Regions from separate parts of the Homo sapiens genome. Here regions 1 and 2 are each linked to region 3. Evidence: fine-mapped expression QTL. A gene starts in region 3. Each other region holds a variant in brackets. All regions are shown on one strand. Distances are between the middles of the regions.

The links. PIP is the estimated chance that this variant, and not a neighbour inherited with it, causes the effect. A credible set is the group of variants that fine-mapping cannot tell apart.
Region 1: its variant is the best candidate, but not a certain one, in a credible set for the expression of EGLN2 in whole blood (TOPMed, PIP 0.80).
Region 2: its variant is the best candidate, but not a certain one, in a credible set for the expression of EGLN2 in whole blood (TOPMed, PIP 0.77).

Annotation. Positions count from the first base shown.
Region 1 is chr19:40,839,546-40,843,654 of GRCh38, reverse strand. It overlaps CYP2A6 (cytochrome P450 family 2 subfamily A member 6), which reads left to right. Exons shown (of 9, transcript NM_000762.6): 9 at 1-114. Among named protein-coding and RNA genes, the nearest start is that of CYP2A6, 8.8 kb to the left of the region's middle. RefSeq lists an enhancer at 1-31. The variant T/C (reference allele first, on the strand shown) is at 1,562.
Region 2 is chr19:40,755,526-40,759,634 of GRCh38, reverse strand. SNRPA (small nuclear ribonucleoprotein polypeptide A) reads right to left here. Exons shown (of 6, transcript NM_004596.5): 2 at 2,131-2,303; 3 at 25-204. Among named protein-coding and RNA genes, the nearest start is that of SNRPA, 6.4 kb to the right of the region's middle. The variant C/T (reference allele first, on the strand shown) is at 1,964.
Region 3 is chr19:40,796,891-40,800,999 of GRCh38, reverse strand. It overlaps EGLN2 (egl-9 family hypoxia inducible factor 2), which reads right to left and starts at 1,809. Exons shown (of 6, transcript NM_080732.4): 1 at 1,738-1,809; 2 at 1-661. The coding sequence starts at 427. RAB4B (RAB4B, member RAS oncogene family) reads right to left here. Exons shown (of 8, transcript NM_016154.5): 8 at 4,058-4,109. MIA-RAB4B (MIA-RAB4B readthrough (NMD candidate)) reads right to left here. Exons shown (of 10, transcript NR_037775.1): 10 at 4,056-4,109. RAB4B-EGLN2 (RAB4B-EGLN2 readthrough (NMD candidate)) reads right to left here. Exons shown (of 12, transcript NR_037791.1): 8 at 1-661. RefSeq lists an enhancer at 1-48 and silencers at 1,472-1,521, 1,672-2,031.

The DNA of each region.
Region 1 (4,109 bases), 43 kb before region 3:
AAACAGAAGCGGCTCAGTTCACCTTGATAAGGTGCTTCCGAGCTGGGATGAGAGGAAGGAAACCCTTACATTATGCTATGAAGAGTAGTAATAATAGCAGCTCTTATTTCCTGAGCACGTACCCCCGTGTCACCTTTGTTCAAAAACCATTGCACGCTCACCTAATTGCCACAAACCTCTGCGAAGGGCGTTCATGCCCATTTTACACGTGACAAAACTGAGGCTTAGAAAGTTGTCTCTGATGTCTCACAAAACATAAGTGCCCAGAAAATCTTTGAACACAGATCTGTGCCCATAGCCTTCTAGACAGATTCTTAAAAAGCACCTATTCCTCACGTAAAACAGCTTAGTATAGCATCACATGGCCTGAACATCCCTGTCCTGGGGAGTTTTCCAGAGACCTGGCGGGTGGCTGTCCTGCCTTCACTGCACACATGCCCACACTCTCACCTACTCAACATGCTTTGAATACCCGGGTGTAATCTGTGCTTGCTACCAGATAAGGCCACTGTAGCCCATTCAGAGTCAGTCCAGGGACACAACGAGACATGAATGGACATACAGAGTCAGTCCATTAACAATTTTTTGCAGAGCAGAAGTTTTTAATTTTAATGACATTCTGTCAATATATCCCTTAATGAAGAAGTTGAAGGAAAGAATCACTTACAGAGAATGAGAGAACTCTGGATCAGGACATAGCCATATTCATGTGTGTGATCATGTTCAGACATGCATGTGAGCATATGACTGCATATTCTCCTCCGTGTATGCATGAAACATATTCCACTATGGGTTCTGAAGGCTGGGCTCTCCTGATGGATCTGGGGTCTGTTGTAAGACCCAGCTGAGAGTTTCACAATCACTGCCCACTCTCAAAGAAGTTAGTGTGTGTCCCCCTTAGAAGCTCCCTTACGGCTTTCACGAAAATTAACTCCAAGTTTATTGTAGACCTAAATGAATAGTGAGTACAAAACTTCTAGAAGATAATGTAGGAGAAAATCTAGATGACCTTAAGTTTGGTGATGGCTTATTAGATACAACACCAAAAGCACAATCCTTGAAAGAAGCAATTGATAAGTTCTGTGTCATTAAAATTAGAAGCTTCTGCTCTGCAAAAGAATTGTCAAGAGAATGACAATACAAGCTACAGACTAGGAGAACATATTTGCAGGGGACATACCTGATAAGGGACTTACATTCAAAATACACAAAGAACTGTTAAAACTCAATAGAAAACAACCCAATTAAAGAATGGGCAAACGATCTGAGCAGACACCTCACCAAAGAAAATATACACATAGCAAATAAGCATAAGGAAAGATGCTCCATATCATATGTCAGTAGCCATTTCAAATTGAAACAATAATGATGTACCACTACTCACCTATTAGAATGGCTAAAATCCAAAGCTGACAACATCAAATGCTGACAAGGAGGTGGCTCAACAGGAACTGTCATTCATTGATGGTGGGAATGCAAAATGACACAGCTACTTTGAAAGACAATTTGGCGGTTTCTTGCAAAGCTAAACATATTCTTACCATGTGCTACAGCAATCATG[T/C]TCTTCGGTATTAACCCAAATGAGTTGAAAACATATAGCAACACAAAAACCTCTGCACAGATGTTTATAGCAGCTTTATTCATAATTGCCAAATCTTGTAAGCAACCAAGATGTTCTTCAACAAGTGAATGGATAAATGAACTGTAATATGTTCATACAATGAAATACGGCAGGGCTTGATGGCTCATACTGTTAATTATAGCACTATGGGAGGCCGAGGTGGGCAGATCACTTGAGGTCAGGAATTCGAGACCAGCCTGGCCAACATGGTGAAACCCCATCTCTACTAAAAATACAAAAATTAGCCGGGCACGGTGGCATGCGCCTGCAGTTGCAGCCACTTGGGAGGCTGAGGTGGGAGAATTGCCTGAACCCATAAGGCAGAGGTTGCAGCGAGCTGAGATGGAGCCACTGCACTCCAGCCTGGGCGACACAGTGAGATTAGAAGAAGCAATATTGTTAAAATGTTCATACTACTCAAAGCAATCTACAGATTCAATGCAATTCCTATCAAAATACCAATGACATTCTTCACAGAAACAGAAAAAACAATTCTAAAATTTAAACAGAACCACAAAAGATCTAGAGTAGCCAAAGCTATCCTAAGCAAAAAGAACAAAATTGGAGGAATCCCATTATCTGACTTCAAATCGTATTATAGAGCTATAGTAACCAAAACAACAAGGTACTAGCATAACAAGTTACGTAGACCGATGGAACATAATAAAGAGCCCAAAAACAACTTCATACATCTACAGTGAATTCAATTTCAACAAAGGTGCCAAGAACATTCATACACTGGGGAAATAACAGTCACTTCAATAAACAATGCCAAGAAAACTGGACATCTATATGCAGAAGAATGAAACTAGACCCCTATTTTTTGACATATGCAAAAATCAAATCAAAATGGATCATAGACTTAAATCTATGACCTCAAACATGAAACTACTAAAGAAAACACTGAGAAAGCTCTCCAGGACATTGCACTGGGTAAAGATTTCTCGAGTAATACCCAACAAGCACAGGGAACCAAAGCAAAAATGGACAAATGGGATCACATCAAGTTAAAACGCTTCTACACAGCAAAGGAAACAATCAACAAAGTGAAGAGACAACCTACAGAGTGGAAGAAAATAAATATCTGCAAGTTTTCCATCTGACAAAGAATAATTCACAAAAAAATATAAGGAGCTCAAACAACTCAATAGGAAAAAAATCTAATAATCCAATTTAAAATTAATAAAAGATTTGAATAGACATTTCTCAAAAGAAGACATACAAATGGCAAACAGGTATATGAAAAGGTGCTAGTATTAATCCGTTCTCACACTGCTATAAAGAAATACCTGATGGCACGGTGGCTCATGCCTGTAACCCCAGCACTGTGGGAGGCCAAAGCGGGCAGATCGCCTGAGGTCAGGAGTTCCAAACCAGCCTGGCCAACATGGTGAAACCCTGTCTCTACTAAAAATACAAAAAAAGTTAGTCAGGCGTGGTGCTGGGCACCTGTAGTCCCAGCTACCTGGGAGGCTGAGGCATGAGAATTGCTTGAACCTGGGAGGCAGAGGTTGTAGTGAGCCAAGATCACACCACTGCACTCCAGCCTGGGCGACACAGTGAGACTCCATCTCAAAAAAAAGAAAAGAAATACCTGAGACTTGTATTAATCCATTCTCACGCTGCTATAAAGAAATACCTGAGACTGGGTAATTTATAAAGAAAAGAGTTTTAATTGGCTTACAGTTTTGTAGGCTGTACAGGAAGCACAGCAGCTTCTGCTTCTGGAGAGGCCTCAAGAAACTGCCAATCATGGCAGAAAGCAAAGAGGGAGTAAGGCATCTTAGACGGCGGAAGCAGGAGCAAGAGAGAGTGAGCGGGGAGGTGCTGTACGCTTTTGAATAACCAAATCTCATGAGAACTCACTATCACAAGAACAGCACCAAGAGGACAGTATGAAACTATTCATGAGAAATCCAACCACCCTCCAGCAGACCCCACCTCCAACATTGGGAGCTACAATTCAACATGAGATTTGGTGGGGACACAGATCCAAACCATATCAGTGCTCAACATAATTATCATCAGAGAAATGCAAATCAAAACTACAATAAGATGTCATCTCACCCTAGTTCAAATGGCTTTTATCCAAAAGACAGGCAATAACAAATGCTGGCAAGAATGTGGAGAAAAGGGAACTCTCATACATATCTCTTGGTGGAAATCTAAATCAGTACAACCACTATGGAAAACAGTTTGGAGGTTCCCCAAAACACTAAAAATAAAATGACCCTATGATCCAGCAATCCCACCGTATATATCCAAAGAAAAGACATCAGTATATCCAAGATATATCCACACTCCTATGTTTACTGCAGCACTATTCACAGTAGCCAAGATTTGGAAATAACCTGACTGTCCATCAACAGATGAATGGATAAAGAAAATGTGGATAGAATGGATAAAGAAAATTCACAAAAAGGAGTACTATTCAGTCATAAAAATGAATGAGATCCTGCATTTACAACACAGTTGCAACTGGAGGACA
Region 2 (4,109 bases), 41 kb after region 3:
GTTGGTCTCCGGGACCTGGCTTACCGGGACAGGCCCCTGGACAGCCCCCACCACGGGGGTGGCTCCCCCGCCTTGCACAGCCTTCTTGGTGGCCGGGGTCTCCTGGCTCTTGGGCTTCCTCTTCTCCCGCTTGCGGTCCCGCTCCACGAAGGTGCCTTTCATCTTGGCAATGATATCTGAGTCGGTCTTGGCATACTGGATACGCTACCAAACAGAGAGCAGAACGGGTTAAGAGCGTGGATTCAGAGCCCAATTGCCAAGATTCAAAATTGGACCTTTATCAGGGGCCAGGTGCTGCGGCTCATGCCTGTAATCCCAGCCCTTTGGGAGGCTAAAGCGAGCAGATCACTTGAGGCCAGGAGGTGGAGACCAGCTTGGCCAACATGGCAAAACCCCATTTCTTTGTTTCTTTTCTTTTTTTTTTTTTTTTGAGACATTGTCTTGCTCTGTCACCCAGGCTAGAGTGCAGTGATGAGATCTCAGCTGACTGCAACCTCTGCCTCCCGGGTTCAAGCAATTCTGCCTCAGCCTCCCTACTAGCTGGGATTACAGGCGCCCACCACCACGCCTGGCTAATTTTTGTGCTTTTAGTAGAGACAGGGTTTCACCATGTTGGCCAGGCTGGTCTCGAACTCCTGACCTCAGGTGATCCACCCACCTCGGCCTCCGAAAGTGCTGGGATTACAGGCATGAGCCACTGCGCCTGGCCAGGAAACCCCATTTCTACCAAAAATACAAAAATTAGCTGGGCATGGTGGTGCGCACCTGTAGTCCCAGCTACTCAAGAGGCTGAGGCAGAAGAATCGCTTGAACCCAGGAGGCGAAGGTTGCAGTCAGCTGAGATGGCACCACTGCACTCCAGCCCAGGCAACAGAGCAAAAAACAAAAAACAAAAAACAAACAAACAAAAAAAAATTCAGACCTTATCAGGAGCTTACTGAGAAACACAGAAATATCTTGGCCTTAACTTCCTTGTCTGAAAAATGGGGATTATGATACTTCCCACTTCAAAGGACTGTTGTGAGGACTAAATGAGTTAAAGTGCTTGGAACAGTACCTGACACACAGTAAGCAAGTGTTCAGTAGAAAGGCTGTTGGTATTTTTAAGGGAAGCTGGAACAGCAATAAACATCAGGCCAAAGGACCGAGGAGACAATGCTAGGAGAGGAGTGCAGTGCAGGGGGATTTCCTGTCACACAAGAATACTTCAGTCTTCCAGGTTCAATCTCACTCACTTAGCTGTTTAAGGAGAACCTGCCAGATGCCAGGCGCCATTCAAGGCTCTGGGAATAAAGCAATGAACAAAATAGACAAAAACCCCTCTTTCATGGTGCTTATTCAGTAGGGGAAGGTATGTTAAAGATTCTTAGTGTGGCACAGTAGCTCACGCCTGTAATCCTAGCACTTTGGGAGGCTGAGGCAGGCAGATCACTTGAGCTCAGGAGTTTGAGACCAGCCTGGGCAACATGGCGAAACCCCGTCTCTACTAAAAATAAAAAAATCAGCCAGGTATGGTGGCACGTGCCTGTAATCCCAGCTACTCAGGAGGCTGAGGCAGGAGAATCACTTGAACCCGGGAGGTGGAGGTTGCAGTGAGCCAAGATTGCACCACTGCACTCCAGCCTGGGCAACAGAGGAAGATTCTGTCTCAAAATAATTTATTTATTTATTTATTTATTTATTTATTTTTTCTGAGACAGAGTCTCACTCTGTTGCCTAGGCTGGAGTGCAGTGGCAGGATCTCGGCTCACTGCAATCTCTGCCTCCCGGGTTCAAGCAATTCTCCTTCCTCAGCCACAGGAGTAGCTGGGACTACAGGTGCATGCTGCCACACCGAGCTAATTTTTGTATTTTAGTAGAGACAGGGTTTCACGGTGTTGCCCAGGCTGGCTGCAAACTCCTGAGCTCAGGTAATCCACCTGCCTCGGCCTCCCAAAGTGCCAGGATTACAGACGTGAGCCAC[C/T]GCCCTCGGCCAAAGAAAAGATTTTTAAATGAGGCAAGGTGCAGTGGGAGCCTGGTCCAGCCTCACCTTGGCAAATGAACCGTAATATCCCCTCCTCTAATCCAGGCCCGCCCAGTCTCCTATAACATTTTACACACCCACACAGCCTCCGTACCCGCAATGCTCACCATAGGTTTGTCATAGAAAGGGAAACCCTGCATGGAGCGCAGGGCGTTGGTGGCGCTGCTGACCTCCTTGAAGATGACAAAGGCCTGGCCCCTCATCTTCAGGCTCCGTGATACCAGGATATCCAGGATCTGGCCAAACTGGGAGAAGATGGCGTACAGGGACTTTTTTAGCTCTGCAGTGGGGGAAAAAAAGACCTTTGAGCTCCCCTTTTTAGAAGAAGCGCAGCCCAAATAGAAGACCATCAGCCAATTGATGGGGTACCCAGAATGCCTCGGGTCCATAATCTCTCAAGACCTAACAATCACAGAAGCAGCCAGGAACCACTCAAGTGGCCAAGTACACTCTTCTACTCTTCTGTAAGATGTGCTTACAGAGAGCTGCTATATAATGAACATGTGCACATACATGCAAAGTGCTCAGGACAGCATCCGGCACGTAGTAAACACTCGATAAATGAGTGATTCTTTTCACTGCCACCAGCACCCTGACATGGGCCTGCATGACGTGGCCCTGGCAGATTTCCCCCACCTCATCCCTGCCCACATTCCACCGCCCTCCTGAGTTCCCAACCACACTGGCCCCCAGGTCTGACACACCAATTTTGCCCCAGGGCCTTTGAACTGGCTGCTCTCTTTACCTGGAACATCCCTCCCCTGAGGTTTACATGGTGGCCTCCTTCTAGTCACCCAGTCTCAGAGGAAATGTTGCCACCTCTGACCACGACGTCTAAATTTCTTCCCATGTCATTCTTACTCTACTTCCTTTTCTTTCATGACTATTTCCCACCTCCTGTCATGGTACGTTAACTTGTCTATCTTGCCTGAGGAGCTATAAGCCTGTCCCATTTGTTTACTGCAGTATGCCAAGCCTAGCACAGACTCCACCACAATTTTTTTTTTTTTTTTTTGGTGACAAGGTCTCACTTTGTCACCCAGGCTGGAGTGCAGTGGCATGATCATGGCTCACCGTAGCCTCAACCTCCCGGACTCAAGCGGTCCTCCCACTTCAGCCTATGGAGTAGCTGGGACCACAGGTGTATGCCACCATGCCCAGCTAATTTCTGGATTTTGTGCAGAGACAGGGTCTTGCTATGTTGCCCAGGCTGGTCTTGAACTCCTGAGCTTCAGCAATTAGCCCACCTTGGCCTCCGAAAGTGCTGGGATTACAGGAGTGTGCCACCACACCTGGCTGCAAACATTTGACTAGATACCATCAAGTGCCTTTTTTTTTTTTTAAAGACAGAATCTCCTTCTACTGCTCAGGGTGGAGTTCAGTGGCATGATGGTAGCTTACTACAGGCCTGACCTCCCAGGCTCAAGCAATCTTCCCACCACAGCCTCCCAAGGAGCTGGGACCATAGGCACGCAGCACGACGCACGGCTAATTTTTTATTTTTTGTAGACACAGTCTCCTATGTTGGCCAGGTTGGTCTTGAACTCCTGGGCTCCAGTGATCCTCCTGCCTTGGCTTCCCCAAAGTGCTGGGATTACAGGCATGAGTCATCGCACCCCCATCAAATGCTTTATGGAGGTAACTTCACTTCCTCACAACAAACCCATTAGGTGGCAACTATGACTGTCCCAATTTTACTGGAAACAGGTTCTCAGAGGATTCCTCACTGGCCCAGGGCATCAATCTGGAGGGCATAAGGAAGCGTATGGCAGAGCCCAGTCCACGTATTCCATCTGAACCCGGTACCACCACATCTCACCAGCAAAGGGCATCACTTGACAGCAAGTGAGATTCAAGCTCAACAAGGATGGACTCCCTCTCACCACCCAGGTCTGCAAAGGGCACCAATGTCTTATGCAAAGAAGATGGCTGAGATGGCCAAGCATGGTGGCTCACACCTGTAATCCCAGCACTCTGGGAGGCCGAGGTGGGCAGATCCTTTGCACTCAAGAGTTCAAGACCAGTCTGGGCAATAGGGTGAAACCCTGTCTCTACAAAAGATACAAAAATTAGCCAGGCATAGTGG
Region 3 (4,109 bases):
CCTGGTTCTCTTGCCTGGCCCAGGGCCGTTTGCTGGGTGAAGGGGCATCCCCACCATCCTCGGCCCATTTCCGTTTGGGGGCCTCAGGCCGTGCGCCCTGGGCTGCCAATCGCTGGCACCCCTTGGTGACCAGCGCTGCAGCGCCTTCACTCTGCAGCGGCCGCAGCTCACCACCATCCTGCCCGCCAAAACCGTCCCGAAGAGGGCTGGCAGTGGTAGAGGTGGCTGTGGCTCTGGGGGTCCCACTCCCTGCCGAGGCCTCACTAGGCACTCCTGGACAGTGGTAGGAGGGGAGCAGGGGACAGGGCAGGTAACTCTCCACTCCCATCCTGGCCCGGCCAGGCTCAGGCTCCAAGGGCTCTGACGAAGACCCTGGTAACTGAGGGAGAGCCTGACTTAGGGGCTGCGGCTGGCACGGGCTGTCCATGGCAGCAGTGTCTTCATCCCCCGGGCATGGAGGGCACCGCCCGGGCCCATGGTGCCACCCTCCTCCGCCTCCTCCTCCGCCTCCACTTGATGCAGCTGGGGGCCACCGGGCCTGGCGTGGGGCAGGGTGAGGCAGGGCAGACAGCAAGAGCTCTTCTCGTGCCCTGGGGGTTGCTTGCTGGTCCCCAAGTCCTCTGCGGTCCCTAAGGGCTTGGGAAGGGACCCTTCAGGGTGGCTAGAGAAAGGAAAAAAAAAAAGGGATGTGAGAGAAACTAGAGACAGGCAGGCAGGGGAAAGCCGGGATGGTATGGGCAGGAGTGGGGAAGACGACCAGGACAGACTTGACTATAGAGGCCCCCCAAAACCTGAGGCCAAGTCGGGGAGAGGACCCTGAGAATCTGGAGGTGCGGGAGTCCGCTGACAGATAAGAGGCAGTGATAGGGAGAGGCTGGAGGCCAGGGGCTGGGTAGATGACCCTAAGACAGAGGACTGTGGTGCAGGTTGTGGGACGCGGTAACCAAAGACAGAAGAAGGAGGGCTGGAGTAGAAAAGGGTGGTGTGGAGGAGTGGGAAAGGAGGGGGTTTGGAAAATAGGAGGGACCTGCCTCGGCGTTCCAGAAAGACAACGAGAAACGTGGGGGTTCCAGGGAGAGTCAGGGTGGGGGCGGGGGGGTCAAAAGACAGAGGAAACTGGGGAGTCCAAAAACAAAGAGAACGAGGGGCCCAGAGACAGAAAAATAGACCGGAGGGAAGCTGGGAGGGAGGACCCGGGGCGGAGCGGGACGGTGGGGTCGACCCGAGCCCGACGGGAGGAAGCCGGCCGGGGGCGGACACACGCCCAGACGGAAGGGAGGTCCCGAGACTGACCGACGGGAGGGGCCCTCGGGGAGAGGGTCCGCGGCGACAGAGGAAAGGACGGAGGAGGGTGCACGCACCCGGAGACAGGACGAGAGATAAAGGTGCCCCCATCCAGGGCACCCCAACGCCCCCAACCCGGGGCAGGCCCTGAGGCCCCTTCTGAGCGCAGTAGGCGACAGGGGCAGGGCCTAAGGGCCGCTCGGACCCCCTCCCCTCCCCCTCCACTCGGCCTCCGCCCGGCGCGCGCTCCCCGCCCCCACCCCAACCCCCACAACGGCCGGCACCCAACGTAACCGGCGCGCGTCCCCTCCCCCGCGCCGCACCCACATCCCCCTTCCCGGGGTCGCCCCGGCAGGCCCCGGCGCGCGCCCCCACACCCCGCCCGGTTCGCGCCGGCGCCCCGGCTCCGGCTTAGTCTCCTCCCGCTCCCTTCTCGCCCCGCGACCTCCTCACCGAGCTTTTTCCTCCGGCCCCGGCGCCGCCGTTTGTGCCAGCCGCCCTGCGCCGCACAGCGCGCCATACCCCGCCCCCACCGCGCGCGACGCCCCGCCCCGCCTCGCCCGGTGGGCACGTGACCGCGCCCCGCGGAGGGGACGGCGCCTGCGCAGGCCCGAGCCGCGCGGGGCGGGGCGGAGCGGGGCGAGGAAGTTCGGGACAACCCCCCTACCAAGGAGAAAGGAAACAGCGGTCCGTGGCCTACACGAGGTTCATTTGCATCCTCCGCCCCGCCCCCTTTGCGCGGGAGGGGGAACGCAGTGTGAGGGGCCGGGTCTGGGAGGGGGCGTTTCTTGCATGTTGGAATCAAGTGGCGTCGGCGGGGCGGGGCACGCAAATGATGTGATTTACATGGACAGGCCTACCCGCCCCCCGCCCAGCGCGGGGCACCGAGTTCGGCAGCGCGGTGCGCGTGACTTCATTTACATGGTCAGCTCCTCCTCCTTCTCGCCGTCCAGGAACGGAGGTGAGAGACGGAGAAATGGCTACGCAGTTAGTTGAGAAATGTATGTAAATTCGCACGTCAGTAATTTACATAAGTATCTTTTATAACGGAGGCAAAAAAGTGCGGGTTGCCCTTGAGAAAAGGGAACGCGGACTAGAAGGGATGTGCAAATGTGTATTTTCAAGACCCGCTCCGGCCTGCCCCCTCGGGACGATTGTGGGAATCAGAATAAAGAACCAGGGAAAGTCTGGGCAACGGAGTGAGACCTTATCTTTACACAAAATTAAAAAATGAAACAAAAAAAAATCCACGGAACGCTACACAGAGAAGACATTTGCATGGCCAGCTGGGAACACTTTAGGAGACTAAGGAGATAAGGTCATTTTGAATGCCCTGCCCGCTCCACCATTGCTCTGGAGAGCTGGGACTCAAGGCTCCCGCCGGGTCGGTGAAGGCCGACGTGGAGATGGGAGGGCGACGAGCAACTGGGAGTGTCCTCGGGGCTGCACCAGTCCCCTGCAGGCCACCTGAGGGCGTAGGGCGGTTCGCGTGAGCACAAGGGCATGCATACTGGTATCCACACATGCGTGAGGATTGCACAAAAGCCCGCAGTCCTCAGGGCACACACAGGGTTCATGGCCACACAAGGGTGTTTCTAGTTTAGTTTTGTTTTTGAGATGGGGTCTTACCCTTTTGCCCAGGCTGAAGTGCTGTGGCATGATCATAGTTCACTGCAGGCCCAACCTCCCAACTAAAGTGATCCTCACACCTCAGCCTCCGGAATAGCTGGGACTTCAGGTGTGTACCACGACACCTGGCTAACTTTTTCTGTTTTTTATTTTTGTAGATAGGGTCTCTCTGTGTTGCCCAGGCTATAGTCTCCAACTCCTGGGCTCAAGTGATCCATCTGCCTTGGCCTCCCGAAGTGCTGGGATTACAGGCATGAGCCACCACGCCTGGCCACACATGGGTGTTTAAAAGGAGCCAAATTCACACCAAAACACACACAGACCTCGGGGTACACATGCACAGGCACACACGCAGTAGTGAGTCACTGCCTCTGACTCTCAGGCATCAGACATGCACACACCGGAGGCCCACCTATAGGTCCAAATTCCCATCCCCTGGCCTTGATGTCCCAAACAATACCAGCCTCACCAATACAATGACCAAGGCCACAGAGCAGTTACGGCTGTCAGCATCACACACAACCAGCACACATTATATCCTATAGACATCATCCCATATGCAGGTACTGGAAACATGTACACATGTCACAAACACAGGGACATCAGCGTGTTTACACACGTGAGCTTAGAACACAGATTGTCACAAACTGTCCACACAGTAACAAATTCCCTCCCTCCGCAACAGGCACCTGAGTCATCATGCTTGGTATACCCCACACCACGTCCAATCAGGAAACAAGGCCCCCAAGGCCAGGCCCAGTGGCTCACACCTGTAATTCCAGCACTTTGGGAGGCCAGCGCGGGCGAATCACCTGAGGTTGGGAGTTCGAGACCAACCTTGACCAACATGGAGAAACTCCATCTCTACTAAAAATACAAAATTAGCCAAGTGTGGTGGCACATGCCTGTAATCCCAGCTACTCGGGAGGCTGAGGCAGGAGAATAGCTTGAACCCGGGAGGTGGAGGTTGTGGTGAGCCAAGATCACGCCACTGCACTCCAGCCTGGGCAACAAGAAGGAAACTCCATCTCAACAACAACAACAAAAAAACAGAAACAAGGCCCCCAAACACCATGACACATGATTCTTCCATCAGGGACCTCTTCCATCTCCCTGCCATCTCACAATAATGGAGGCCAAGACACAGGTGTAAACAATGCTTTATGGGGGTAGGGTGGGTGCTGGACAGGCCTCCA